Linked DNA regions of Homo sapiens: all the other regions are linked to region 1. Evidence: fine-mapped expression QTL. A gene starts in region 1. Each other region holds a variant in brackets. All regions are shown on one strand. Distances are between the middles of the regions. Region 1 holds the start of NAPB (NSF attachment protein beta). Region 2 overlaps NAPB (NSF attachment protein beta). Region 3 overlaps NAPB (NSF attachment protein beta).

What was found. PIP is the estimated chance that this variant, and not a neighbour inherited with it, causes the effect. A credible set is the group of variants that fine-mapping cannot tell apart.
Region 2: its variant is the best candidate, but not a certain one, in a credible set for the expression of NAPB in whole blood (INTERVAL, PIP 0.87).
Region 3: its variant is the best candidate, but not a certain one, in a credible set for the expression of NAPB in whole blood (TOPMed, PIP 0.59).

What each region holds. Positions count from the first base shown.
Region 1 is chr20:23,416,633-23,426,971 of GRCh38, reverse strand. It overlaps NAPB (NSF attachment protein beta), which reads left to right and starts at 5,484. Exons shown (of 11, transcript NM_022080.3): 1 at 5,484-5,667. The coding sequence starts at 5,570. RefSeq lists enhancers at 481-1,188, 5,106-5,295 and silencers at 5,546-5,635, 6,266-6,495.
Region 2 is chr20:23,378,420-23,388,758 of GRCh38, reverse strand. It overlaps NAPB (NSF attachment protein beta), which reads left to right. Exons shown (of 11, transcript NM_022080.3): 8 at 7,442-7,546; 9 at 8,824-8,892; 10 at 9,264-9,314. It also overlaps the pseudogene RNA5SP479. Among named protein-coding and RNA genes, the nearest start is that of GZF1, 21 kb to the right of the region's middle. The variant TCTTCTTTCA/A (reference allele first, on the strand shown) is at 3,039.
Region 3 is chr20:23,390,351-23,400,689 of GRCh38, reverse strand. It overlaps NAPB (NSF attachment protein beta), which reads left to right. Exons shown (of 11, transcript NM_022080.3): 3 at 3,502-3,618; 4 at 5,505-5,551; 5 at 5,691-5,768. Among named protein-coding and RNA genes, the nearest start is that of NAPB, 26 kb to the left of the region's middle. RefSeq lists an enhancer at 8,430-8,969. The variant G/C (reference allele first, on the strand shown) is at 6,618.

The DNA of each region.
Region 1 (10,339 bases):
TACAGATGGGTTTTCGGTGTAGATGTCCTTTCTGGTTGTTAGTTTTCCTTCTAACAGACAGGACCCTCAGCTGCAGGTCTGTTGGAATACCCTGCCGTGTGAGGTGTCAGTGTGCCCCTGCTGGGGGGTGCCTCCCAGTTAGGCTGCTCGGGGGTCAGGGGTCAGGGACCCACTTGAGGAGGCAGTCTGCCCGTTCTCAGATCTCCAGCTGCGTGCTGGGAGAACCACTGCTCTCTTCAAAGCTGTCAGACAGGGACACTTAAGTCTGCAGAGGTTACTGCTGTCTTTTTGTTTGTCTGTGCCCTGCCCCCAGAGGTGGAGCCTACAGAGGCAGGCAGGCCTCCTTGAGCTGTGGTGGGCTCCACCCAGTTCGAGCTTCCCGGCTGCTTTGTTTACCTAAGCAAGCCTGGGCAATGGCGGGCGCCCCTCCCCCAGCCTCGTTGCCGCCTTGCAGTTTGATCTCAGACTGCTGTGCTAGCAATCAGCGAGATTCCGTGGGCGTAGGACCCTCTGAGCCAGGTGTGGGATATAGTCTCGTGGTGCGCCGTTTCTTAAGCCGGTCTGAAAAGCGCAATATTCGGGTGGGAGTGACCCGATTTTCCAGGTGCGTCCGTCACCCCTTTCTTTGACTCGGAAAGGGAACTCCCTGACCCCTTGTGCTTCCCAGGTGAGGCAATGCCTCGCCCTGCTTCGGCTCGCGCACGGTGCGCACACACACTGGCCTGCGCCCACTGTCTGGCACTCCCTAGTGAGATGAACCCGGTACCTCAGATGGAAATGCAGAAATCACCCGTCTTCTGCGTCGCTCACGCTGGGAGCTGTAGACCGGAGCTGTTCCTATTCGGCCATCTTGGCTCCTCCCCTGATTGTGCATTTTAGCCTGGGCAACAGAGCGACACCCTGTCTCAAAAAAAAAAAAAAAAAAAAAAAAAAGAAGAAGAAGAAGAAGAGCACTTACTAATGACAATAATATATATTTTCTCATAAGCATTTATTTTAACTTAATTTACCATTTTTTGTTTTCTGTAACAGATATTTGCGTATATTTAATTTTACCTTTTCTAACTTTTTGGTCTGAATTTTATAGAGTAATTTTTTAAGGAAAGGTTAAATAAGATTAATAAAGTTACATTTGGGGAAACTTGTAACAGTTTTCACAGGGTGTGAAATGTCACCCCACACACATAACACACAAACACTTAAACTGATGTTGTTTCAAAAAGTTTTTTAGAGATTAACAAAAGCTGTTTAATTATTTCTCTGAAATGTGCCATTCAAATGTTCTTGGGTTTTGTTAGTCTATGAGAAAAATGAAAAGAATCACTGTAAATAGAACAATTAAATTCTGTCCTTAGAATTGCACAACCTCATCCACACAGATGGAAGATTTATTTTCATTAATGCATTCCTTTAACGATTTTGGGTGAAGAGCCTCCTGAAATGGACTTCTTCCTTCCCTGCCTTCTGAAGCAGAACACTCTGCTTTAGATGGTTTGACCTTGTCCGATGACTCTGAGCCACGCTTAGCATTTCAGGCAGAACGAAGGCTGAGATGTCATCAGAGAAGGCCACTGCAGACCTGGGCAGGGACCGTTGGGCCATGCCATGCAGGGCCATGTGAGCTGAAGGCTGTCCCCCAACGCCAGCGTAGGGGCTCCAGCTTCCCAACTTTGTCAATGCAACCAGAGTGGACCAGGGTGAGCACGGACTCCCTCTAACCTAGCTGTCGTGGTGTGAAAACATCTGCAAATCCTCAGAGGCCCTCCCATCAGGAGATGTCGTCTCATTTCCCTCCCCTTTAATGTGGGTGAGCCTTCTTGCTTTGCTTCAGTGAAGCAGCAGTGATGTCCCATAATTTTCCATACTGGATCTTTGCCTGGTGCTTTCTCCCCTTCTGTGAACACACACAGATGGCTACACCCTTTCCCCATATCGATTCTGTTCTTTTCTGACTCTGGCTTTCTTAGTATTGGGGTTCTCAAGTAGCTTCAGCCCTGTCTTGATGGATCATCTTTCGGGGTATGTGCTGATTCAGTCTGAGTGTCCAGGTGTCCACCTCCATCTTCTCACAGGGAAAAGCCAGCAGTACTGTTGGCTCTGCCTTGTTCAGGCTACGCTCCTTTCCTGCTCTGCCTTCTCAGAAACTCCCTGAAGCCTTTTTCTTCTTTTCTTACAAGTGTCCAGAACTTCTGAAAAGCAAAGCACATAGAGGCTAGTGCCATCCACTAGGACTTGTGGAATGATAAAATTGTTCTCTGTCTGTGCAGTCCATATAGTAGTGTAGGGGGGCATCTCAGGCTCCTGGTGGAGTCTGAAAATTAAACTTACATAAGACAAGTTAATAGCAGGAAAGCACACAGGTGTATTTGATACAAGTTTTACATGGCATGGGAGGCCTCATAAGGAAATGAAAACCCAAAGAGGCAGTTAGAGTGTGTTACTTATTTACTGAATTGGACAAAGAATAGTAAACTGAAAATGTGATGAGGCAGAGGGGCTTGGGCTAGGGTAGTTAATTGGATAGAAAAGTGACTAAGAAGATAAGGGTTAGTTTAATAGGGTTTGTACAGAATTCTCTTAGCCTCAACTTCCTGTCTTTGATGATAAGAATGTTGCTTTAGTTCTAGTATAAGAGGGACATCTTTCATATGGGAATTTCATCTCTTGCCTTTAAATAAACAAGAGGTTGGGGCCAGGCGCGGTGGCTCACGCCTGTAATCCCAGCACTTTGGGAGGCCGAGGCTGGTGGATCACGAGGTCAGGAGATCGAGACCATGCTGGCTAACACAGTGAAACCCCGTCTCTACTAAAAATCCAAAAAATTAGCCGGGTGTGGTGGTGGGTGCCTGTAGTCCCAGCTACTTGGGAGGCTGAGGCAGGAGAATGGCGTGAACCTGGGAGGCGGAACTTGCAGTGAGCCACTGCACTCTGGCCTGGGCAACAGAGTGAAACTCTGTCTCAAAAAAAAAAAAAAAAGAAAGAAAGAAACAAGAGGTCAAAGTGTCCAGTGTGTATTCTGTATGCAAAAAAGAAAAGAAAAAGTCAAAATAATCTTCTTGCACCTGTCGTTTTTTGGGTGTCTAACTTTTTTTTTTTTTTTTGAGCAGAGTCTCACTCACTCTGTCGCCCAGGCTGGAGTGTAATGGTGCAATCTCGGCTCACTGCAACCTCTGTTCCACCTCTCAGGTTCAAGTGATTCTCCTGCCTCAGCCTCCTGAGTAGCTGGGATTACAGGCATGCACCACGACACCTAACTAATTTTTGTATTTTTTGTAAATTTTGTATTTTTGGTAGAGATGGGGTTTTACTGTGTTGGCCAGGTTGGTCTTGAACTACTCACCTCAAGTGATCCGCTTGCCTTGGCCTCCCAAAGTGCTGGGATTACAGGCGTGAGCCACCGCCCTCAAGTATCTAACTTAGTCAATCCACCAGGTGTCTAACTTAGTCAATCCACCAGGATGCTATATTTATAACTCTTTCAGTAGCCACTGGCTATGTGTGGCTATTGAGCACTTGAAATACGGCTAGTACAGCCAAGAAATGGAACTTTACATTTTATTTAATATTATTTAACTTGAATGTAAATAGCCACCAGTGGTGAGTGGCTCCATCCTGGGCAGCGCAGGTGTGGGCAGTGGGTCCTTTGGCTCTTCTCCAAGATGACTTCTATTCTTCTCCTGATCCACACCAGGGGTGCTTCTCCTTTCCTTTTCCTTCTTGTTTCAAGGATTCCTCAGCTGTCTCTCTAGTCAGGCCTTATTCTGTGAGGTTCATCTCTCTGCCCTGCCTCCTTTCCTCCCCCAGCCTTTGGGAGAATAAAACACTAGCTCTACCCAGTAATTAAGGTTTGAAGGTTTTCTCCCACTTTGGTGTGGACTGGCAGAACGGTGGGAGTGCCCACAAATTTCCTGTGACAAAGAAGAGAATGAAGGAAATTACTAGAAACCACCAAAAATGTCTCTCTTAATTGCAAGTGCTAGCTTCGGGGAGGCAGTCTGTTCCAGCTCCTTTTCAACTGACTACAGATATGAGAATCTAGAACTGTGTGCTTTAGGATAGGGATGGAGAGTTCTTTTCAAAATGTGCATTTTCTAGACCCCAGCTGCAAGAGACCTTGATACCAAAACCCAGTGGCCTAGGAATCAGTATTTCTTAAATATCCATTAGAGCTTCTGCATCGAACCACGTTAGGGAACAACTGATTTAATCAACACACTGATTTACTTAGGAGCTTTTGACTTAGCCTCACTCCATTAAGCCCCCATAGACTGCTCTGCTTTCCAAATGCTTATGTTCACTTTTTACAGTTTTTCTCTGGTCTCCCCTGCATTTACGGTCACCTCCAATTTCCCGCCTCCTTCTCTCTCCAAAAACACACAGCTCAGCTTTTCAAAGTTAGAATAATGCATGTAGTAATCGTAAATAAACTGCACGAAGAGCTGAGATTTCTTTCTATCTCTACGGAGTCCTGAAATGTATGAACTCTGTGACATGTGCTTTAGTCAACTTTCTTTCTAGGAGTTTGGCCCCTCTTGCCTTGCCCTCTACAGACAGTCTTCATTTTCTAAAATTTTGCATGCCAGTGCCCAGAGTGTATTTATTAACAGTTTGAAACTGTCATAAATCTCACTTGGCAGTGATTTTCTTATTAGTTTCAGCATCTCTGCCTTAGCACTGCCAAGCTTGAATGGTCTAGACATTGTCTTCAAAAATAACTCCCTCTGGGACAGGCCTGAAAGTCTCTGGCACAGGATCCCATCTATCTATGGATACTTCTCCTAGGAGATTAGAAGTCTTCCTGGCAGGCAAACATTTTGTCCCTGGAGATCCATCCACTATGGCCAGTATTATGTAAAGGATAAGAGTTCAATGGTTCACATCCATTGAATATAATTCAGTCAACAAAAGAGTGGATTATGCATATATTGCATATATGCAACTCATTTATAACCAAGGAAGAGAGGACCAACAGAAAGTTACAGTTTGGGGAGATTTAAAAATAACTGAACTTATATTGGGGACGTCTTGCTCTTGGAGATAAAAATGGCTCTTATTGCCAGCTGTTGCTCGTTTTTTGGTGGGCGGTATCAAGCATGTGATGCTTTGGTGGCTACACCAGATTCTCTTTTGCAGAACTTGCATGAAGGGTGTGGGTTCCATCCAATCTGTTATCCCCTGTTCCTTCATCCATCCCATTGCCATGCGAGTCTTACTGAGGAGGTGATCTTTACTAGAGGCCACGGATCATTTTTCCATTTCTGCATACATACAAAATTAAAGTTCACCTTGGCCCAGGACCCCTTTGGGGGGGTCACGCCCCCTGCGCCGACGTCCTGGGAGCTAGCGGTGCGCAAGCTCGGCTCACACACACCCCGCCCCGGGGCCTCCTGGGAACTGTAGTAGGCGGCTCGCGAATCCCCGCCGCCATGACAGGACCCGGACTACAGCTCCCGAAAGGCCTCGCGCGTCGCGCCTGCGCCTGCGTCCCTGCGGCCGCCAGAGGGAGGGTTAAGGCGCCTGGGCGCACAGCGAGCCGGCTGAGGGGGCTGTGGCGGCCGCGGCGGGCGACATGGACAACGCGGGGAAGGAGCGTGAGGCAGTACAGCTGATGGCGGAGGCCGAGAAGCGAGTCAAGGCCTCCCACTCCTTCCTCCGAGGGCTGTTTGGGTGAGCGCCAGACCGTGCGTGCCCTGGGGGGGGGGGGTCTCCGTACTTGGCCCCCTTCCTTTCAGGCTGACCCCCCGAGTCCCCCACGCAACCTCTGGGGCCCTCAGACCACGTCTAGGGGCCCTCAGCCTGCAGGCGCCCTCCAGAAATCCTGTAGGGTCCCCCAGCGCCCCCTGGAGCCCCCAGGACGCCCAGGGGCCCTCAGTCCGCACGCGCCCTCCAGAGACCCCACAGGCCCCCCCAGGGTCCCTGGAAACCCCGCATCCTCCCAGGGGCTCTCAGCCCCCACGCGCACTTTAGAGACCCCCTAGGGCCGGCAGAACTCCCCAGGGTTCCTCAGCCCCCACACGCTCTCCGGATCCCCTAACACGCCCCCTTAGAATCCCCAGAGTCTCACAGGGACCCTCAGCCCCCACGCGCCTTTCAGAGAACCCCTAGGACCCCCAGAGCTCCCCAAGCGCCCCACGAAGCCCCTAGAACACTCTGGGGGGGGGGCTGTCAGCCTCACGCGCCCTCTGGAGACCCCAGATCGCCCCCCTCGCCCTGGCCCGGGTTGGTGCGGGGGTCCCACGACCTAGAAGGTCAGCGGCTCCCTGAGGCCCGCGGGCGCGGTAGCTCGGGGCGCGCGTGGGGCCCCCTTCTCAGTGCGTAGCGAGTCGTATTGGTGCATTTCGCCACGCTGAAGCCCGTATCGCTCCTGAGACCGGTCCGGGTGAGGCGCGCCGGGGTGGAGCCGGAGGGGTGGGTGCGGGGGCCGCCCCCGGCGCCTGGAACGCGCACCTGGGGGCGTCCCGCCTGCAGGTGGGCCCCGCCGGGGAGGGGGCGGTCCGGCGAGGGATCCAGAGCTGGTGTGCTTGTTGGCCTCTCTCCAGGGGCCTTGCGCCGAGTACACCTTTAGTAAATACTTGACTAATGAACGAATATATTTTCTCAGCATAGTATTTTTCCTTCTCCGGAGATTGATTGATAGCCAGAGCCTCCTGTTTGATTAACGGTAACGCTGCTGCTGTTTAAGTCAGGCGTCCTTTGGGAATCCCTTTAATTTCCTGTAATTCTTCCGTGCTCTCCTAAGGAGGATTTTAAATTCCAACCTCTCAAAAAGCAGAGCCCGCACTGACAGCCCGGAAGAATTCTGGGCTGTTGAATATGTGAATGATTCAGCTGTTTAGGATGAGAAAGGCAGAAATTTTGTGTGTGCCTGTTTCGTTGTTTTCTTTTGAAAGTGAAAGATCCTTTGCTGTTACCAAGAGCAGATACTTAACCCATTGCATGACTAGACACGATTTTATTTCTGTACACATTCAGTTCAGACTCTATTTCAGAAGACAGACATAATGGGCTCTTAGCTTGTTTTGCCAACTTCATTCTTTTGGCTATAAATTATAATACTTTACCGCTATTGATACGTCTTTAGGAAATGCTTAAGGACAAGTTGCATGCAGTACGCATAACTGCAGAAATGCATAAAGGCTGCAAAAATGCAAGAAGATAAGGGTCCCTGTCCTCAGGAACCTCTCAGAGGACGTTTATCACAGCTGGTTTCTAAATTTCTCATGTGATGTGTAGGAGATATAGCTATGAATTATGTTTTGTTTTGCATTTAAAAGTTATGACAGTACCATCAAGTGCTAGCGCCACACTAACTCCTTTTAAATGTTTTGATTCACAAAACATTTAAAATTCACTCTAATAAAATTTAATGTCATAGTACCTCATGCCAGGAGGTTATTTTAATGTTACAACATTATTTCAAGTCAGGAAGTGCTTCCCTGTGGGAGAGTCTGTAACTGGCAGAGGAAAAAGCTTGACAGCACTTGGTGCTTGTCTCAGGAGAACACTCCTTTTGGGAAAGAGGTTTTCGATGTTTTTAGGAAACTAGGCCAAATCTTGAGCTTATAATCCTTAAAGGATTTTGAAAAGCCTTTGTTTTTAAAGAAACATCTCCCTTTTAAATGTTGCTACCTATGTTATTGACAGGACATATAAGAAGACGAATCTTCACCATTCACACTCAGTTACACAAAAGTTAATGCATCTTAGTTCTTACCTGGGTACAACAGGTTGGTTTATTATCTAGCTTTGGGACCTAGGGCAAGTTACTTAGCCTCTCTGTGCTTCAGTTTCCAGTGTATAAAACGGAGACAATAATAGTATATCTCAAAATTTATGGGAGTTCAGTGAGGTTATGTTTATAAAACATTTGGAACCATGGATGTTGGAGACAGTGACCATGAGATATTAATTAGCATATTCATCAAAATTATCAGCTCCAGTTATTTATCAAAGAAGCAGTAGGCCAAACAGATAACTTTTCCAGAATTTCAGAGCCGTAGACTGCATCATTGATTTTTTTTTTTTGAGACGGAGTCTCACACTGTCACCCGGGCTGGATTGCAGTGGCGGGATGTCAACTAACTGCAACCTCCGCCTCCCAGGTTCAAGCGATTCTCCTGCCTCAGTCTCCTGAGTAGCTGGGATTACAGCCACCCGCCACCACGCCCGGCTAATTTTTTTTTTTTTTTTGTATTTTTAGTAGAGACGGGGTTTCACTGTGTTGGCCAGGCTGGTCTCGAATGCCTGACCTCGTGATCCACCTGCCTTGGCCTCCCAAAGTGCTGGGATTACAGACGTGAGCCAGCACGCCCAGCCTCATTGATCTTTTAATGAAATAAAATATCTGAAAGAGCTTTAACCATTAATGTACCATGCAAGTGTGATTTATACTTTGAAGACTGTTATTTCCAGTAATACTTGCTCCAGGAAAGCTTGCAGGAAGAAGAGTACTTAGAATTTTAGGAGTTTAGTAATATTGTATAATTACTGAAGCCAGAAAACAGACGTAGTGTTCCTGTGTCAGTAGGACAATTAAGATTCTGTATCAATTTTAGATGTTTAGAATCCTACCTTATAGATGGCATGTATCATCACCTTTCTAGACTGGAATACATGTTATTCCACCCTGCCCCTGCCTTCTTAGCTATAGAATGTCACCATTTTCATTCCTAAAGGTCTGCATGTAATCCTTTATTTAAAACGCAGAGTAATCCATCTCTATGTCAGACTCCAGAATTAATGTAATACAAAATTAATAAAACACACATACTGACTTGAATATCATCAGAGCTCATATATTTAAGAGCTGACTAGCTGGTGCTTTAAAGAGGATAAGCCATCTGTTTTCAGGTTGTGGCAGTCATTAAAAGCTGCTTGGCATATTGCAGATATTTCACATCACAGACATTCTGAATGCTCTATCTGCAGATTAAAGCCTGTCATGAGTTCTCTAGTGTTTACCACTCACAGTGGTTTTGTGGCAATACTGTATTCTTAGTAGTATTCTATAGCTTTTGTTTCTTGCTTTCAGTAAAATTAGATGAAAATATGCATATGTATTTATGAGAACATGTCAGTCAAATATTTCTTCTCTGTGTAAGGCACAAATCCTCTGCCTTATCTGCTTGATAGGTAAGGTATCAATATTCCTTTCCCATCCCCACCTTCCTCCCCAGGAAAAGAGCTGACAAGGGATGCAAACATTGCAGGAAACCACTGTTGTGGTGGTTTGTGTTTCTGCTTAATTGCCCGTTAAGCAGTAATGTGCTTTTGTAGTTGTGGAATTAAAACTTTTTCTCAAGTTTGTAGTATAGTACGTTTAGTAAAACTACTTCCAAAGGAGTTGTCTTGTCCTTTAGTTTGTTGCCAGGGATGAGCTATGGAATTTTGTAGTTAATTTCAAATTCCAGTTTATAATGTTAATGAACTACTGGTATGATTTTAAATCGGCCTGAGTCTGACATTAAGATAGTTTTGAATTGGAAAAGCCTCTTATAATACTATCCCCTCCATCTTGTTGCTATGAGACCCGGTTGGGAATAACCTGCACAATGCACATAGAAGAAAGTGCTTAAGACTGACAGTGGAGGCCAGGTGCAGTGGCTCACGCCTGTAATCCCAGCACTCTGGGAGGCCGAGGCGGGTGGATCACTTGAGGTCAGGAGTTTGAGACCAGCCTAGCCAACATGATGAAACCCCGTCTCTACTAAAAATACAAAAATTAGCCTGGCGTGGTGGCGGGCGCCTGTAATACCAGCTACTTGGTAGGCTGAGGCAGGAGAATCACTTGAACCTTGGAGGTGGAGGTTGTAGTGAGCTGAGATTGTGCCACTGCACTCCAGCCTGGGCCCCCGAGCGAGACTCCGTCTCAAAAAAAAAAAAAAAAAAGAATGCCAGTGGAAAGATGTTCTTTATGGTTAATGCTGTCTTCCTTTGCCTTTCAGTGTTTAGTCTGAGTTTACACAAGAGCTACAAATTTGGCAATGTCAATGTAAATTTAATGAAAGGCCCCATTGGGTTATCTTGAAATAATTATGAATCTATAATTTGTTGGTTGTTTGTGAAAATTGTGAATATTTCTTAAGCATTGTAGACTGTAAATTATCAGTATTCTTCACTTGTGTTTATTTCAACAAAGATTGCTTTTAAGTTTGGCCAAAATATGGTGGGGCCATGTGATAACATAGGTGAAGCATTTAGGTTTTCCTCAGTTACAATTCTTGTTCAAATGCAGATTGAACTTTTAAAAAAATTATTAGGCTCAGGTTTACTGACAGAGACAGGTGATACAGTATAAGAAATATATACGTATATTTGTGTATCTTTCTCAAAAGAAATC
Region 2 (10,339 bases), 38 kb after region 1:
GAGTTAATTTTTGTATATAGTATGAGGTAAGGGTCCAACTTTATTCTTTTATATGTGGATATCCAGTTTTTCTAGCACTAATTGTTGAATAGAACTATATTTTAACTATTGAATGGTATTAAGACCCTTATTGAAAATTATTTCACCATATGAAATATGAGGGCTTACTTCTGGGCTCTCTATTCCATTGATCTATTTATCCATCTTTGTGCCAGTATTACACTGTTTATATCTGTAACTTTGCAGTAAGTTTTGAAGTCAGTAAGTGTGAGTCCTCCAGCTTTTTGTTCTTTTTCAGAATTGTTTTGGCTATTCCAGATCCCTTGCATTTTCATCCGAATATTAGGATCAGCTTGTCAATCTCTGCAAAGTAGCCAGCTTGGATTTTGATAGGGATTGTATGGAATGTGCATACCAATTTGGAGTGGTTTTAGGGTTTTCTAGAGAAACAGAACCAATAAGAGGTGTAGGGGTGTATGTGTGTGTGTTTGTGTGTGTGTGAGTGTGTATGTGTGTTTAGAGAGAGAAATTACTGGAGGGAATTGATTCGCTTGATTATATAGGCTGAGAAGGCCTAAGATCTGCATTCTGAAGACCCAGGAGAGCCAATGGTATAGCTCCAGTCCAAATCCAAAGGCCTCAGAACCAGGAGAGTTGATGATGTAATTTCTAATCTGAGTCCAAGTCTGAATCAGGAGAATACCAGTGTCCTGGCTCTAAGACAGGCATTGAGAATGAATTCTTCCTTTTAACCTTTTATTTTATTCAGGTTTTCAGTAGATTGGATGAGGCCCACCCACATTGGGGAGGGCAATCTGCTTATTCATCCTACTGATGCAAACGTTAATCTCATTCAGAAACACCCCACAGACACACTCAGAATAACACCAAATATCTGGGCACCCTGTAGCCCACTCAAGGTGACACATAAAATCAGTCATCACAGAGAGTATTGCCATCTTAACAATACTAAGTCTGACAGTCGATGAATACAGGTTCCTTTTATATTTATTTGGATCTTCTTTCATTTTGCTCAACAATGTTTTGTAGTTTTTGGTGTGTAAGTTTTGTATTTCTTGGGTGAAATATACTCCAAAGTATTTTATTTTTTTTTTGACGCTACTACAAATTGAATTATTTTCTTAATTTCCTTTTAAGATTGTTAACTGCTAGTGTATAGAAATACAGTTGAATTTTGCATATCAATTTTTTGTCCTGCAACCATGCCAAACTTATTAGCTCTAATAGGTTTTTTTGTGTGGATTTCTTAGGTTTTCTATATCCAAAATCATGTTATCTGCAAATAACAATAGTTTTACTTCTTCCTCTGCAATATGAATGTGTTTTACTTCATTTTCTCGGTTGCCCTGGCTAGAATCTCCAGTGCAGTGTTGAATAGAAGTGACAAGAGCAGACATCCTTGTCTTGTTCCTGATCTTGTAAGGAAAACTTTCGGTCTTTCATATTAAGTGTGATAGCGGTAGATATCAGTAGTGGGGTTTTGGTAAATGCTTTTATCAGTTTGAGGCAGTTCCCCTCTCTTCCTAGTTTGTTGAGTGTTTTTATCATCAAAGGGTATTGGATTTTGTCAGGCATTTTCCTGTGTCTATTGAGATAAACATATGATTTTTGTCCTTTATTTGTCAGACTTTTTTCTGCATCTATTGAGATAAACATGGTTTTTGTCCTTTGTCAAACTTTTTTCTGCATCTATTGAGATAAGCGTATGGTTTTTGTCCTAATCAGCTTAATATTGTAGATTACATTGATTGATTTTCATATGTTGAACCAACCTTACATTCCTGGAATAAATTCTACTTGGTCATTGCAAACTTTGAGGGGTTTCCCAAGAACACCCTCAAGTTTATTAATAATTTGTTAGACAAACTTACAGAACCCACTGAAAGCTGTTATACTCACAATTATGGTTTATTACAGCAAACGGGTACAGATTAAACTCAAAGGAGAGACTCATAGGTCAAGGTCTAGGAGACTTCCAGGAAGAGCTTTCAGTTGTCGGCTCTCAGTGGAGTTATGTAAACAGCACTTACTTCCCCCCACAGTAATAAGTGAAAATAAGCGTAGACTGCTGCCAACCAAGGAAGCTCCCCTGAACGTGGTGTTCTGAGTTTTTATTGGGGTCCAGTGACATAGATGTTGACCACCCTTGTGGCTGACTTTACTTTTTGTAAGTGCCAGAATTGGTTTGCTAACATTTTGTTGAGGATTTTATGTCTATGTTCATAAAGGATATTGATCGTTAGTTTTCTTGTGGTGTCTTTGTCTGGTTTTGGAATCAAGGTAATTCTGGTCTCAGAATGCATTAGGATGTCTTCTTCCTCTTCTGTGTTTTGGAAGAGTTTGTAAAGGATTGGTGTGAATTCCTCTTTAAATGTTTGGTAGAATTCAATTATTTCTCTTTTTTTGTTTTTATTTTCACTGATTTCTGTTTTTATTGTTATTTCCTCCATTTTGTTTTCTTTGGATTTGTTTTGCTCTTTTTCTGGGTGCTTGACATGGAAGTTTAGCTTGCTGATTTTCATCTTTGTTGTGTATGCATTTTTAGTGTTATCAGTTACCCTTTCATACATTTGGCTACTTCCCAATTTTATTATATCATTATACTTTTATTTTTATTCAGTTAGTTGGATTTATTGATTTCCCTTGAGACTTCAGTGACCCATGGATTATTTAGTAGTGTTTTATTTAATTTCCAAGTGTCTAGCAGAGATTTTTCTGTAATCTTTCTATTGTTGACTTATTTTTAATTCCTTTGTGGTTAGATAACATATTTTTGCGTGATTTCAATTCTTATAAATTTGTTTTGTTTTATGGCCTAGATATGGTCTATCTTGGCATATGTTTTATGATTATGCTGTTATTGGGTGATGTTTATAAATGTTGATTAGCTCCTGTTGGATGATGGCATTGTCGAGTTCTTTAATATACTTGCTGATCTTTCTTTCTTTCTCTTTCTCTCTCTCTCTCTCTCTCTTTCTCTCTTTCTCTCTCTCTCTTTCTCTTCTTTCTCTTCTTTC[TCTTCTTTCA/A]GACAGAGTCTTGCTCTGTCACCCAGGCTGGAGTGCAGTGACTTGATCTCAGCTCACTGCAACCCTCCACCTCCCAGGTTCAAACTATTTTCGTGCCTCAGCCTCCCGAGTAGCTGGGATTACAGGTGTGTGCCATGTTGGCTAGGCTGGTCTCGAATTCCTGGCCTCAAATGATCTGCCTGCCTTGTCCTCCCAAAGTGCCAGGATTACAGGTGTGAGCCACTGCGATTGGCCTTTGATTTTCTTTCTAATTCTATCCATTGTTGAGAGTTGGGTGTTAAAATCTCCAACTTTAGTTGTGGATTTGTCTGACTCTTCTTTCATTGTGTCAGTCTTTGCGTCACATACTTTGCAGCTCTGGATTGCTATTCTTGCTGGAGAGACCCTTTTATCATTACATAATGTCCTTCTCTGTCTCTGGTAATTTTCTTGGCTCAAGTCTACTTTATCCACTTTATAGCCCTGCCTGGTTTCTTTTGATTAATGTTTATATGATATGTTTGTCCATTCTTTTTCTTTCAGCCTGTCTATATCATTATAACTGAAGTGAGTTTCTTGTAGTTGGATCTTGTTTTTTTTTGTTTGTTTGTTTTGAGACAGAGTCTTGCTCTGTCTCCTACACTGGAGCGCAGTGGAGTGATTTTGGCTCACTGCAACCTCTACCTCTTGGATTCAAGTAATTCTCCTGCCTCAGCCTCCCGAGTAGCTGAGATTACAGGTGCGTGCCAGCATGCCCGGCTAATTTTTGTATTTTTAGTAGAGACAGGATTTCACCATGTTGGCCAGGCTGGTTTCATACTCCTGACCTCGGTGATACACCCGCCTTGGCCTCCCAAAGTGCTGGGATTGCAGGCATGATCCACCACAGCCAGCCTGGATCCTGTTTTTTAATCCACTGTGCCAATCTTTGTTTTTCAATTGGTGTATTTAGGTCATTCACATTTAATGCAGTTATTTATATGTTAGGGCTTAATTCTGCTTTCTGCCATTTTAGTTTTTGCTTTCTATTCTTTGCTTTTTGTTTCTCTGTTTTCTTTTTCCAACCTTTTTATGGGTTGCTTTTCTTTTTTTTCTTTCTTTCTTTTTTTTTGAGACTGGGTCTCACTCTGTCACCCAGGCTGGAGGGAAATGGTGCGACCCTGGCTCACTGCAGCCTCCACCTCCCAACCTCAAGCAGTCCTCCCACCTCAGCCTTAGCCTCCAGAATAGCTGAGACTACAGACATGCACCACCACACCTGGCTATTTTTTGTAGCGATGGGGTTTTGCCATGTTGTCCAGGCTGGTCTTGAACTCCTGAGCTCAAGTCTTTTTGTAGCGATGGGGTTTTGCCATGTTGCCCAGGCTGGTCTTGAGCTCCTGAGCTCAAGTCATCTGCCCACCTCGGTCCCCCAAAGTGCCAGGATTATAGGTGTGAGCCACCACACCCAGCCTACTTGATTTTCCAGTGTTTCTAAGTACAGTTATTCCTCAGTGTCTACAGGGGATTAGTTCCAGGACCTCTCTCATATATCAAAATCTGTGCATAGTCAAGTCCCACAGTCGGCCCTGTGGAACTCACATATAAAAAAGTCTGCCTTTCATTTATATGGGTGTTGAATTCCTAAGAATACTGTATTTTCAATCCACATTTGGTTGAAAAAAATCCGTATATAAGTGGATTCACACAGTTTAAACCAGTGTTGTTGGAGAATCAATGGTATATATCTTTGTGTAGCTTTTGTGGTTAAATGCTGTAGGTTGGTGTCATCATTTTATAAGTTCTGGTGAAATATAGAAATCTTACCTCCCTTTCTGTTCTTTTACTCCCCCTATTCAATATATAGTTGTCTTAATGTTTCCTCTGCATACATTTAGAACCACATGAGTCAATGTTAGAATTTTTGTTTCAGCCATCAAACATAATTTAGAAAACTCAAGAAAGAAAGCCTGTTATATTTACCCATATTTTTGCTTACCATGTTCTTTCTTCTGGATGTTCCAAGATTATTGTTTCCTTTCTATTTAGAGAACCTCCTTTTGTCATTTTTTTAGGGTAGGTCTGCTGACAACAAATTTTCTTAGTTTTCCCCTATCTGGAAACGTTTTGATTTTGCCTTCATTTCTGAAACATAGTTTTCCTGGGAGTATAATTCTAAGTTGATTGTTCTTTTCCTTTAGTTTCAAAAATGTGCACTTTATGGCTTCCATGGTTTTACAAACTTCTGACATCAAGTGATCCACCCACCTCAGCCTCCCAAAGTGCTGGGATTACAGGCATGAGCCACAACGCCTAGTCGGCCTCCATTGTTTTTGATAAGAAGTCTGCTGTCATTCAACTTGTTTTCCCCTATAAAAAAGGTGTTATTCTCTAGACACTTTCATAATTTTTTTCTTTTAGTTTCAAAAGTTTAATTATAATGTGGCTTGGATAGATATATTTGGTTTTAAGCTATTTGAGTTTCCCTAAACTTACAGAATCTGTAGGTTTATGTTTCTTGTCAAATTTGAGAATCATTTAGCAGTTATTTCTTCAAGTACTTTTTCAGCTTCCTTTTTTTTTTTTTTTTTTTTTTTGAGACCGAGTCTTGCTCTGTCGCCCAGGCGTGCCAGTTTAATGGCGCAATCTTGTCTCACTGCAACCTTTGCCTCCCAGGTTCAAGCAATTCTCCTGTCTCAGCCTCCCAAGTAGCTGGGACTACAGGTGCTTGCCACCACACCTGGCTAATTTTTGTATTTTTAGTACAGACAAGGTTTCGCCATGTTGACCAGGCTGGTCTTGAACTCTTGACCTCAAGTGGTTCGCCTGCCTTGGCCTCCCACAGTGCTGGGATTACAGGCGTGAGCCACCATGCCCAGCCAGCCCTTTTCTCTTTCTCCTCCCCTTCTAGAACACAGATGCCACAAAAGTGAGACTGTTTTATTATCCCATGGGTCCTTGATGCTCTGTTCCTTTTTGTCAGTTTGTCTTCTCTCTGTTGTTCCTGTTGTTGTCTTCCATTTAGTGCTTCTTTCCTCTGTCCCTTTCATCCTGCTGTTGAGCCCACCCACTTTTTATGTATGGTACTGTTTTTTTTTTTCAGTTCTGAAATTTTTATTTGTTTTTACTTTATATCTTTTTTCCTGTGGCTTCCTTTTTCTTTGTGGATGCTTTCCATTTTTCCATTAGCTTCAGGTGTTATTGTACTTGCTTTTTGGAGCATTTTTATGAGGGCTTCTTTAAAATCTTCGTGGGATATTTTGGACATTTCCGTCATCTGGAACCATCATCTGTTAATGGTCTTTTTTCATTTAGCTTGAGATCTTCCTGTGTTTTTGGTATTACAAGTCATTTCTGATTGAAAACAGGGCATTTGCACATTAGGTTATGAGACTGGGTCTTGTTTAAACGTTCTCTTTTCAGTTGGCCTTCTTTGACATTCCTCTGGCTGGGGAAGGTGGGGATGTTACCTCATTACTGCCAGGTGGAGGTAGAAGTGTCAGCTTTCCACCAGGTCTCTGTTGACACCTGAGGGGCCTAGTCAGCCCTGGGCAGAAGTGGCATCCCCTCTCCTTATCTGTTTCTGCCAGCACAGTGCTGGTTTGTTCTTGGTATGGTGAGAGTCTTCACCCTCCACTAGACCTCTTCTGACAGCACACCAGCTGGAGAAAGAAGGGGAACCTCTTTCCTGCTTGACAGAGACAGGATGCAGGCTCCCAGTGTGGTCTGCACTGCCTTAGTGTCAGGGGGTTGGGTGGGGATCAAGCCTCAGCTCCCTATTTGGCCTTCTCTGAAGCTCCTAAGCAGAGGTATTGGGGTGCTTCTTACAGTCTTTCAAGAATGGACTTTAGGACTCCTTCTTCAGCCTTTGATGATGTAAATGGAGTTAGGGCCTCAGTTTTTCTGTGATATTTGGCTGGAGTAGAGCAGTTATTGTCTAAGTGTTTTCTCTCTTGCTGGGCTGCCCCTTTTCTAGTCCTTTGGCCAGAGAGAGCAGGCTTTTGTCTCTTCTCTTTTTATCTGTGCATACTGGCATTTCTGGGTTGCTGGTTCTTCAGTTTCATGCCATGGATATAGGAAGGGAAAAGAAAACTGAGGGAACCCACTACCACGTTTTCCCTTGGGAAACGTTTGTTTTTTAGAAAATGACCTGGGCTTTTAGTAGTGCTTAGTGGGAGGATTAGGGGAAAGGATGTTTACTCCATCTTATTGGAAGCAGAATTCTTCTGAGCTATTTTTAACTGGTTAAGACTTCATGTATTTAATGGTCTTGTCTAGTAAAATTTCTACTATATGGTATTCGGATAAAATAATATATTTCATAGCTAAACAAACATAAGATACATAATTATTTTCTAAAGGACAACAGATGAGAATGACTTTGCCTGATATAAGAGGGTAAATCTTTTAAATTTAACTCTGCGTTCTGTGCCTAGGTTGGGGCAAACACAATGGATAATCCTTTGTTGAAATACAGTGCAAAGGATTACTTCTTCAAAGCTGCCCTCTGCCACTTCATAGTAGACGAGTTGAATGCCAAGGTAAGGAGTTCTTCAGCATTGATTGACTGATTTCACCCATAAGAATACGTACACATTCTCTCTTGTTCTTGGTATCATTTCATTTTGATGTTAGTACCAAGAATAAACGGGTACATTAAAAATAAGTATTATTCTGTGGTATGTGTCCCAGTTGTAATCTTTTAACAGCTGTCAAAGCTGTTCTCAAAAGTTACCTGATAGTTTATAGCCATACCACCCTGAACACACCCAATCTCGTCTGATCTCAGAAGCTAAGCAGTGTAGAGCCTGGTACTTGAATGGGGGGCACTGCCTGGGAATATTTAGTGCTATAGGCTTAAATATATGTATATGTTCACTGGTAGCCACCATTTTTTTTTCAGTAGTTTTGCTTTAAAGAAATTAAGGGGGCCAGGCGTGGTGGCTCACATCTGTAAACCCAGCATTTTGGGAGGCCAAGTGGGGTGGAGCACCTGAGGTCAGGAGTTTGAGACCAGCCTGGTCAAAATGGTGAAACCCCGTTTCTACTAAAAATATAAAAAAATTAGCTGGGTGTGGTGGCGGGTGCCTGTAAGTCCAGCTACTTGAGAGGCTGAGGCAGGAGAATCACTTGAACCTGTGAGGCAGAGGTTGCAGTGAGCTGAGATCGCACCACTGCACTCCAGCCTGGGTGACAGAGTAAGAGTCCGTCTCAAAAAAAAAAAAGAAAGAAATTAAGGAACTAAGGGAGGAGACAATAAGAGTAGGATAATATCCATTTAAAAAACAACCAAAACAACAGGCAAGCTCAGAAATGGTGTTGGAGTGAGGACTGGGAAGAAGTTGAAAAGCACAGTGAGCACTGGGAGCCAAGAGGCAAAAAGACAGGCAGCCTTGGCATGGCCAGTGTCTGGAGTTGGAAGAGCAGAACTAAAGCCAGTAAGAGAAACTGTTCTTTCTGTCAGCTTCGAGCAGGAAGCTAAATGTAATTTATTTGGAATCTGGACTGTATTAAGAACGTCTCCATTTAATGGATGGATACAGATACCTGGTCTGTGAGTGTTTAAGAATTCATTTTCATTTACAATGTCTTCTCAGCAGCAGCCTAACTCAGAAAAAAGTAGTTTAGAAATTATTCTTTATTGAAATGGAAAATTCAGAATAGAAAGATTTTCTATGTTGATTCTGCTTTTGAGTTTAACTACATACTTTTTCAACACTTAATAGGATATAGGTAGATCTTATTTGAAGCTGATAGAATGTTGAAAGCTTTGTTTGTTTAGTAAGTCTGAAATTGATGAGTGGTTTTTCTCTCTCAGCTTGCTCTTGAGAAATATGAGGAAATGTTTCCAGCATTTACTGATTCAAGAGAATGTAAATTATTGAAAGTAAGTAATATTAGAACTTTGAAGAAAAATGCTTTTGTTCTGTTAGGTGACAACACCTAAGTGGGATTGGGTATGAAGTGAAGTTTTAATCTATAAAGTCTGCTAACTGAGGGGCCCTGGTACTTTCCTGCTTTCGTATTATAGGTGTTCAAATGCAATTAAGGTCAGAAACATGTAGTTGTGTTCTGAAATAGGCACCTGAGAAATGTTACTACAGAAGCTAGATCCCTAACTTGGCTCTTGACTTGTATATGAGTATTTCCTCAGTTTTGTGCAATATTTGGCAACATTGGTATTATACTTAAAGTATATATTTAGAAATGGGACTTCATCTTACAGAACTGTTTTTTAAAATATTTTTATGCTACCAGAAACTCCTAGAAGCTCATGAAGAACAGAACAGTGAAGCTTACACTGAAGCAGTAAGTTATGCTTTTGGGACATGGTACATTATTTGAAGATTTAAGTTAAAGAAACTTCTTTTCCTTTTCATTATGTGAATTCTAAACATTTATTTGAACATGACTCCAGCATACCTTAAGTTGTATTTTCCAAACGTCACCTTTTATATATCACACAAATTAAACAGTTCCATTAGCCATGCTGAGATTCGACTTACACTCAAAACTAATTTAGCTGTGAGACTAGTTCAGGAGCAAATATTCCATTTATATTCTTATAATTTGCTGTTTTAATTTTTTCTTTTGAAAATAATCTGACCCATAAATAAGTATAAAGTAAAATTAGTTAAGGCCAGGCACGGCGTCTCACACCTGTAATCCTGGCACTTTCGGAGGCCGAGGCAGGCAGATCATGAGTCAGGAAATTGAGACCATCCTCGCCAACATGGTGAAACCCCGTCTCTACTAAAAATATAAAAATTAGCCAGGCATGCTGGCACACGCCTGTAGTCCCAGCTACTCGGGAGGCTGAGGCAGGAGAATCGCTTGAACCCGGGAGGCAGAGGTTGCAGTGAGCTGAGATTGCACCACTGCACTCCAGCCTGGTGACAGAGCGAGACTCTGTCTCAAAAAAAAAAAGAAAAAAAAAATTAAATATAATTTAAAATATAAAAACTAAGTAGTGAGAATTTGCTGTATTTGTGGCATGAAATAAATGGAAGGTGGCCAGGCACGGTGGCTCACACCTATAATCCTAGCACTTTGGGAGGCCAAGGCGGGTGGATCACCTGAGATCAGGAGTTTGAGACCAGCTTGGCCAACATGGCAAAACACCATCTTTACTAAAAATACAAAAATTAGCCAGGCATGGTGGAGTGTGCCTGTAATACCAGCTACTCGGGAGGCTGAGGCAGGAGAATCTCTTGAACCCAGGAGGTGGAGGTTGCAGTGAGCCAAGATCACGCCATTGCATTCCAGCCTGGGCAACAAGAGTGAAACTCCATCTCAAAAATAAATAAATAAATAATAAATATATATATATATTA
Region 3 (10,339 bases), 26 kb after region 1:
TCATAATGACTAAGCTAATTTGTTTGATACTCAGCTTTTGAGAGATCATCCTCACAGGTATTATACCAGTTTTGCGGGTGAGGAAATTTAGCCTAAGTTGTGTGGCTTCCCAGAGACCATTTAATTTAATATATGATCCTTTAAAGACAGTTCCAAGTTCCCCCTCCACCTCCGAGAATGGAGTCTTGCTCTGTTGTCCAGGCTAGAATGCAGTGGTGCGATCTCAGCTCACTGCAACCTCCGCCTCCCGAGTTTAAGCGATTCTCCTGCCTCAGCCTCCGGAGTAGCTGGGATTACAGGCATGTGCCACCACGCCCAGCTAATTTTGTATTTTTAGTAGAGATGGGGTTTCTCCATGTTGGCCAGGCTGGTCTTGAACTCCTGACCACGAGGAGTGCCTGATCCACCCTAAGTGCTGGGATTACAGGCATGAGCCACTGTGCCCGGCCCAACACTTCCAAGTTTAGATAGACCGAGCTAGCATTTGCTGTCAGTGATTGGAATGAATAGTCAGAGTGAAAAAGTAAGCCAGCAACTCGTTTTGGAATGTGGGAATGTGAAAATGTAAAATTAAAGCGCTTACTGTTGTCTGGAGAAATGGAGGTAGCCCAGAAGAGCCTGGGTGTTGTGGTATTACTGAGCAAGAAAAGGATGGCCCATGACTGATTCTGAGACAGGAAACATAGATAAGTTATCAAAAATGAAATGCCAGCAGGAGAGCAAGGATGTAGATTGTAAAAAAAAGATGGCATTTCAATATGCCAAACCACAGATATGATCTAAGGCTAGATTTGCATGTAATAATGAAAGTGGCCACCGTGTGTAATGTGAGTCAGGCCCTTCTAAGCACTTTACTTGCGAAGTCCAAGCTATTACTACGTTCTTCTGAGGCAGAGCCCATTAAAGCTCCCACTTAGCCAGATATGTTCCTGAGTTGCCACTTCATGGTTAAGTGCTGCCCCAAGTACCCCAGGTGCCTGGCCACTGTCCTGGCAGTGGCCTTTGCCCCTTCTGGATACCCACCAGCCTCTCATGATTCACAAGGGGCCAGCAGGGCTTCTTCAGTTCCAGCTCTAGCCCTGAGGCTGGCATGTACTCTGATTGTTCAGTGCCTTGGTTTCTTCCTGCGGCTATAACAAAATACCTTAGTGTAATTTATAAAGAAAATGAACGTATTGTTCAGAGTTCTGGAGGCTGGGTCGTTTAAGATCAAGGTGCCAGCAGATCCCGTATTTGGTGAGGACTGTTCTCACCTTCCACGATGGCGCCTTCTTGCTATGTCCTCACGTGGTGGAAGGAACAAGGCAGTTCTCTTCAACCTCTTTTATAAGGGCACTCATCCCATTTATGAGGGTGGTGCTCTCATGACTTTATCACTCCCCCAAAGGCCCCACCTCTTAATACTGTCAAATTGGATATCAGGCTCCAGTAATACAAATTTTGGGGGGATACTGCCATTCAGATCATAGCACTACCCATGTCATGCTGGTGGTTACATATTTTTCAAAGATGCCTGGGTACTCTTTTTAATCAGAAACTGTGGTACAGAGCAAGAATTGAACCTGGGCAGGTGGGCTCCAGAGTTTGTACTGTCCCTTTGCCCTCAGGTTCAGAAACCCACATGAGAACTGTGCATTTCCTCTGGGGAGAGGGAGTTGGAACAAGAGATGCAGCTGAAGCTTTAGCAGAATTGGATGTTTACGGCCAGGTATAATCATCTGTAATCCCAGCACTTTGGGAGGCCGAGGCTGGAGGATTGCTTGAGCCCAGAAGTTCAAAACCAGCCTGGGCAACATAGCACCTGTCTCTACAAAAAAAAAAAAAAAAAAAAAAAATTTTTTTTTTGAGACAAGAGTCTTGCTCTGTCACCCAGGCTGGAGTGCAGTGACACAGTCTCGGCTCACTGCAACCTCCGCCTCCCGGATTCAAGCAATTGTCCTACCTCAGCCTCCCAAGTAGCTGGGATTATAGGCACCTGCCACAATGCCCAGCTAATTTTTTGTATTTTTAGTAGAGACAGGGTTTCGCTATGTTCAGGCCAGGCTGGTCTCGAACTCCTGACCTCAGGTAATCCACCTGCCTTGGCCTCCCAAAGTGCTGGGATTATAGGCTTGAGCCACCAAACCCAGCCAAAAAAATTTTTTAAAGAATTAAAAATAAAAAATAGCCAGGTGTGGTGGCACATGCAGCTACTCAGGAGGCTGAGGCAGGAGGATCTCTTGATCCTGGGAGGTGGAGGTTGCAGTGAGCTGTGATCACGCCACTGCACTGCAGCCTGGGTGACAGATTGAGACCCTGTCTTGAAAAAAAGAAAAGAATTGGATTTTTTTTCCTCACAAAAAAAATTTATAGCAAATGTTTAATATCAGCAGTGAGTACTGCTTTATGATAATTTTTTTAGAAACCTAAAGGCTTTGTGATATTCTTAACCATGCTTTTCCTGGTAGATCAGATTCTTTCCTCTCCATTTCTGCTGTACTGACTTCCCCAATGTGACTCATTTTTCAGAGGCACTCTGCTGTGTTGCTTTCTCTGAACTCAGGAAGTTTCGCATGTTGATGTTTAAACCCTCTGGGAAGTGGCCTGATGCAGCCTCAGCCTTGATTTCCACTGGCCTCCTCCAGTCAGGGCAGGCTTGTCACTGGCCTCCACTTCCAGCCCTTTCTTACCTTCAAGCATTTCTTCTGTGTTCCTGTGACTCCTCTGCTAGCGATTCCTTCCCTCTTTCTTTTCCAGCACTCCAGAATCCATGGTCCCTGATCCAAAACCTTTTCTGAAAAAGATTAGTTCATGTACCTTATATGTTGTACTGTGTCCCAGTTGGAGACCTGGGTGGTACCCCACAACCAGATCCATCAGTGATTCTGCAGGGAAATTTGTAAATTCTCACACTAAATGGGGTAAAATAGATTAAACCTCATATAAATTTCAGTCAGATTTTGCTATAAAGTAAAGAAAAAAATTTGGATTTTTAGACTTTTCTGGATTTCAAAATTGTGGGCCTGATTTTCACTTTTTAGGAAACTTACTTTATCCATGAAGCCTTCATTAGCAGTTTCTTCCACACCGACAGCTAAGTGTAGGAGACACTAAGATAGAAAAGTGAGCAAATATCTTTGCGCTCAGTGTTTTACCTTTCTTTAATCATTTGTGGCTTGAAGCCCTTAGCTGATGTTTATTATATGTTAGTGGAATTGAATTGAGTAGCCCAAGACTTGGCTACTGGTATTGAATGGACAGATCAGGGAATAGTGGCTTAGTGCCCAGGGACACTTGGAAAGTCTGCTGGAGCTGAGGTGGAGAAGCTTTCATCGCTGTTTGACTTGATTCTGGTTATTTTTATATTTGCCCGAGGTGCACTGGACCACATGGATTTTTGCTTCTGACTAGAATGCTTCTTTTCAGTGGAATATAATTTTTCTAGGGAGGTCCAGTGCTTACAGCATGGGCTGCTCTGGGGGGGACTTGTTCCTCTGTGTTTAATTGTAGTGTCTTCTTCAGCTGCAGGAAACGCATTTTGTCAGGCAGCCAAGCTCCACATGCAGCTTCAGAGCAAACATGACTCTGCTACCAGCTTTGTGGATGCTGGAAATGCTTACAAAAAGGCAGATCCCCAAGGTAAGACAGCCAGGCATGTAGCATGCTATCTCTGTGTGTAACTAACCAGTCAGTACTTCCCTCAACGTTAAGGTCAGTGTTGGTGTGCTTTCAAGTCCTGGTAAAAAGGAATTTTTGTATTTTGGAATAATAGAGAATTTTGATAACCTTAGGGATTTTTCTTTTTTAATCATTTGGGGGCTTTTATGAGGAGAAATTATGTTAAATTTATACTGGCTGTTTACTTTATAGCATCATTTAATTAAACTCTTATTTATATTGCATTTTAGAGAATTTTTTGGAAATTACCTTTAATTTTATCTAAGACTTCTTATATCTTAATTTTGTGAAAATGTATATTGTTCATAAAAGGAAACTCTTATGTTCCCTTACTCCTAAATACCTAAGGAGTTTTCAGATCCAGTTAATGGGAGATTGTAATATTCAATCGTTAAAAAGTCTGATTCATACAGTATTCATTTGGTTTTTTAAAAAGTTTTTCAAAGTATTTGTTTTGAGGAAAGAATGCAATTGGATATTTAATGTGGTAAAATTTTGCAAAGATTATTTCTTTTTAGTTAGAAGAGTGTAATTAAAAGTATTAATTTCTTACCTTCCACACGCGTGCACAGCGGAAATTTTGTGTTTTTCCTTTTTCTTTTAGCAGTCCATTTTGTTTAACACACAGATCCCAAATTTTGAGAATAAATATGTCATAAAGAAATAGGGTATCTTCAATACCTTTGGTATAAGGGTTAATCACAGTTTATTTCCCAAAGTGACAAACTGGACACAGGTTAAATAAGCTGTTAGAGTGGTAACATTGTAATGCATCAGTACTTTAGAATATGGTGCAGGCATTAAAATCCCTGGTTTCAGAGAATCTTCAGTGACCTGGTAAATGTTTACATGTCAATTAAAGAAGCACATGAGACTGAATGTTGTATAATCTCATTTTCAGAAAAAAGTTTGTGCATATAGAAATGTGTCTAATAAACGCAAAAGGAAAGTACATCTGAGTACTAACAACGGATTTGAGCGGGATTATTGATAGATTATTTTTCTCTTTATATTCTGTATTTTAAAAGGTGTAACAGGGATCCACATTTTTTATGTAGTTTAGAGGGAAATTGTTTTAATTTTTGTTCATCTGCTTACCTTTCTAATTTTGTAGTCAGGCCTTTCTACTTTGCTGCCTCTTTAAACCAAACGTAATAAACTTGGAGCTGTCACTGTATGCCAGCATCATAAACACCATCATTTTATGATAGGGAAAATTTTTTGGCTCACTTGTTTAGAAAATTAGTAAAATTTATTAGCATTATTATTTATTAGATTTGTTTCTTCATTTTGTTAGTATGCTACAATTTAGCATCTTTGAACATTATACAGAATGTTGACTTTGCTTAAGGGTTGTTTGAATAGGCATTTCAAAGTGCTTTTGCTTTTGGCTGCATGGAGAGTAGAATCTATTGAGGTGATTGTTCTTGTGATGTGGTGCCATGTTCCAAAATTAATATATATGCATGGTATTAATGAGGAATATGTTTGCATTCATATTTTAGCAGATACAATTTATCAGTGTTGGTGACAACCTCTATGGTTTTATTTTCTTTATAATACAGTCTTTTGCCTGGATGGAGTCCTCACTTTAAGGTTAAGAGTAACTAAGCCAATGTTACTCCAGCTACAGTTCCCTAAATTATACTATAGCTGCTGGGAACAAAGCCATGCTGATGAATCTGGACTTGTGCATGATTTTTGTTTGCTTCTCATTAACCTGCCCACCCTCCACTCCAAAATTATACCTCATTAACGTTCTGATAACAGCCAGGAAGACAGCCTCACCTGAACCCTCTTTGACTGAATGGATTTTTCATTGTTTTTCTTAAATGCCTACGCTTCAGAGGCTATCAACTGCTTAAATGCAGCCATCGACATTTACACAGACATGGTAAGACATTGCATTGCTTGAGTGGCTGTGGGGTGGAGTCTTGAGATGGCTTAGAGTTCTATCTTTCTTTTTTATGTTCCCAAACTGGCATTCAGATAGGTAAAATCGGTGTGTGACTGTTTCTTGTTTTTTCCCCTAGGGAAGGTTTACAATTGCAGCCAAGCACCACATTACTATTGCAGAGATCTATGAGACTGAACTTGTAGACATTGAGAAGGTAAGCAGTGGGCACACTTCCTCAGATGTGAAGCAGGCAGATAAGCTGACTCAAAGAACTCTCCTCTCCTCAGTCTGAGAGTGATCGTAGGTGTAGAGTGGTCATAGATGGCCTTGCCTGGAGACTTTCTGGCAAAGTCTACTAGCTGGCTAAGTAGATGGGCTGTTTTCCTGGAGTGGACATCTAAGACATGAGAGCTGATTAAGATTTACAGAGATCACCTGTTGTTTCCACTCTCTCTGATTCATGTCAGAACATTAGCATTGCCAAAAGAACCTTCAGCTGTATTGCTTAGTACTCTAAGGCCCAGTGAAGAAAGTGTAAGAGGTCACCTCTGTACACTCAGTCAGCATCACAGCTTTAAGTATCTGTGTGCCAGTGACTCAGAAATCTGACTGCAGCCTAGACCTCTCTCCAAATGCTAGATTACTGTATCCACCTGCCTGCTGACCTCTCCACTTTGTCCAGCAGTCATCTCTAACCCAACATGTCTGGGACTGGATTCTCAGATGTCCCCAACCCAGTGTTCCCCGCTAAACTACAGGCTTCCTTGCCTTTTCTCTTTCTCTACAACCTGTGAGCAATTTTTGTGAGCGGTGTCCTTCCTGCTCCCAAGTCTTGGCACAACTCACTACCTTGTCTCTCAGCTCACACTTGATCGCTGCAGGATCCTTCAAACCGGTCTCCCTGCTTTTGCTCTCCCTACCTTGCCAACCCCACATCCCCATGCCACAGAGTAGCCAGAGTGAGCCTTCTAAGCATTGCATCATACTCTGTTTCTCTACTGCTGACAGTCATTAGACCCCTTTCACTAAGAGGAACAGCTGGAGCTGTGCAGAGCCTTCATGG[G/C]TCCACTGAATTGCTTCCTCCCAGCCCCACACTCCCCATGCATCTGTGTGGCCTGGCCTCTCCTCTTTTCTGTTATTCTCCTCCTCTTGCATACCCTGCATGGCCATCCTGGCCTCCTTGCTGTTCCGCACACATGCCAGATGAGCGCTCCTGCCTCAGGACCTTTGTATCCACGATTTCCTCTGTCTGCAAAGCTCTTCCCCAGATGTCCACGTGGCTGACTCCTCACATCTTTCAAGTCCACATGGCTAACTTCCCCGTGCCCTTCCATTTTTGCTCATTTATTACCTATTTCCATGATTAACTATTATGACCCCCTAGTTAATTTAGCCCCCCAGGAAGACATAGTAGATCCCCACACACCTCACTTAACTTCTTGTATTGCTGAGCAGATGTCTCCTTACAATATGCCCTCTCATATGCTTGCTCATCATTCTCATTTTGGTTGTCTCTCTCCCTCCGCCAGATTGGGCACACGTGTCAGCAGAGAGCTTTGTCTCTGCTTTGCTGATGTGTCCCAAGAGCCCAGAACTCTGGGACCTAGTGGGGTCTAAATATTTGCTAAATAAACAAATGCTACCCCTACCTCCACCATACCAAATGGAGTCTTCCTGGTCTGGGGAAGGATCTGCTAGGCGTTACTGAAATTGGACTGGCATTGTTAACGTTCACTCTTTTGACTGTGTGACCTCCACCTGTTGGTTATTCAGCACAAAATTTGCTCATATTTGTTACATAAAATTTATTATTTGACCTTTTTTTTTTATAATTGCCATACTTTTCTGAGGATACTCCCTGATCTTGATCAAGTCAGGGCCACCCTGTGCATTGACGTGTGTGTGAGCCTTCTCTTTGGAAGGTTATCTGTGGATCCTGGAGGCAGGTGATGGAGCTGGATCTGAACCTCCTTTGTTCCCTGGTGTGGAATTGATGATGGAATGGGAGGGAGATGGATCTGGTGTGGCTGGGGTATTTATTTGGTCAGGGTGTCTGGGATGGCCACAGTATCTTTATTTAGGTTTGAGTGAGTCTTGCGGGGATGAGCACTGTGCGCAGAGCATCTTTGCCAGCAGAGGCTCCTGTTCCAGCTTCCTCTTTCACAGTGGTCAGAAGGGCACTCTGGGGCAGGAGCCTGCAGTGCTGTGTCATTTCTGCTGCCCAGGCATGGTCTCCAACACATGGGTCTCCATAAACTTGAGAGCAGATAAAATGAAATGTGACATACTCTTTTTTTCTCTTGAAAAAAAAAAGGCCAGGTACAGTGGCTGATGCCTATAATCCTACCACTTTGGGAGGCCAAGGCAGGAGGATCACTTGAGCCCAGGAGTTCAAGACCAGCCTGGGCAACATGAGAAATCCCCATCTCTACTAAAAATATAAAAAAAAAAACTATCCAGGAATGGTGGCGTGTGCCTCATTCTGTTCCACAGGCTGGACAGGTTGGAGTGGCATGAACACAGCTCACTGTAGCCTCAGCCTCCTGGGCTCAAGCGATCCTCCCACCTCAGCCTTCCAAGTAGCTGAGACTACAGGCATGTGCCACCATGCCCGGCTAATTTTTTAATTTTTCATACAAATGAGGTCTTTTCATGTTGCCCAGGCTGGTCTCAAACTCCTGGACTCAAGCAGTCCTCCCATCTTGGCCTCCCAAATGCTGAGATTACAGTCATGGACCATCATGCCTGACCTTCACGGAATACTGAATTTTAAAATGCAGCTATAAAAGAACAGGTGTACTATGGTTCTCTTTTTGCAAATACTTAGTCACACACAGAAATAGTCTGGAAGAAAATATTTCTCTGGAAGAAAATATTTCTTTGGAACACCTGTCAGAGCTGTCATGTACACACATGTGAGATTACCTGATGAAGGTACATCTCCTCCCTCTAAAATGTGGGCTCTGTGAGGGCAGGGCCCATGACTGTTCCGCTCACCATCACAGCCCTGAGCCTAGCATGATGCCTATTTACAAAGTGGGTGCTCAGTAACAGATGCTAAGTGAATGAAGACAAAGTGCATCACAAATGAAAGCTGCCTATAGTTCCATGGCCTGTTTTGTTTTATTTGTTTTCTTGTCCCTGCAAATCTCTTCTAACTCACTAGGAGCTGCCTTGAAGCCACTTAACTAATGGGCTTGGGCAGAAAGGCAGCACCTTTAATCTGATTTTCAGAGACTGCTAGCTCCCTCATTTGCATTTGCTGTGAAACCTTTGTCATTCAAGCATCCTGCAAACCCACCACCTGCTTCTGTATGTTTGCATGCTAAAAATGGTTTTTACGGTTTTTAATCCTTGAGAGAAAAAAGCATTTTGCGACGTGTAAAAATTATATGAAATTAGAAATTTCATTGTTCATAAATATAGTTTTATTGGAACACAACCACACTTATTCATTTATATCTTGTGTATGGCTGCTTTTATGCTACCACAAGAGAGCTGAGTAGTTGCAACAAAGATGCACAAAACCTAAAATATTTCTTGTCTGACCTGTTAGAGAAAAACTTTGGCTAGAGCCCTGGTTTAAAGAGCTGCTCATACTTATCTCTTGTTATTTGGGGTATAGAAGGTTTTTTCAATCTTATGAGAGCTTTATTTCTAAGGCTGTCTACCACCGTCTACAAACCAGCTGATTCTTTGCAGAGTTCAGCTCTTACAAAACTGTGCTAAAAACAGCAGCACACACTATCATCTGACTCTTCTCAGCCATTTTGCTTAGTTTTGGACTCCGGTAGACACTTATTTTTTTGTTTGTTTGTTTGTTTGAGACAGAGTTTCACTCTTGTCACCCAGGCTGGAGTGCAATGGCGCGATCTCAGCTCACTGCAACCTCTGCCTCCCCGGTTCAAGCAGTTCTCCTGTCTCAGCCTCCCAAGTAGCTGGGATTACGGGTGCCCACACCACGCCCGGCTAATTTTTGTATCTTTTTAGTAGAGACAGGGTTTCACCATGTTGGCCAGGCTAGTCCTGAACTCCTCAGGTATTCCACCCTCCTCGGCCTCCAAAAGTGCTGGGATTACAGGCATGAGCCACCGCACCTGGCCGACACCAGTTCTTTTTTCTGAGTTGTCACGTGCTTGATTTCACTAACTTCTACCACAGCATGACAAGGACTTCTAGCTTTCTGGCCTGTGATCTCTGTTTCTTCTCCACTTGATGCCATATATTTTAGATTGACGGCAACACCCTTATTCTAGGTGACACTTAAGGTATTAGTGTGTGTAGTCTGTGCTGCAAGTCATAGACGTAAGGTGTAATTAGGGCTTCATAGCTCTCTAACAATCCAGTGTGGCTGCTAAGGGTTTGACAGTGGTAGAGACACTGGGGTTGGAGGTACCTTGTGTCCTTTGTAATTACTTAGGAACCTGCCTGACAGTTCTGCCATTTTGGTGTCTAGCTTACAGTGTCACTCTGGACTTGGTCATAGCCCTCCTAGCTCATGGGAAGTGGAAGGCCTGGAGGAGGATGCAAAGTGAGATATATGGCCCAAGCCTGGGAGTGGCCCCCAACATGTCTGTTTACATTCCACTGGAGAGAACTAGTCATAGGCTGCCCCTCACTATGGAGGAAGCTGAGGAAGTGGTGTAGCTGGGCATATGCCATGTGGGGAGGGGGAAACAGATTTTGATGGTCAGCAAGCATTCTGCTTCCAGAGGTGCATGCTTTCTTGTATTTCCTAAAGAAAGTAGGCCGAGTTGTGAAAAGTTTGCTGGTAGAGTAGGTTTA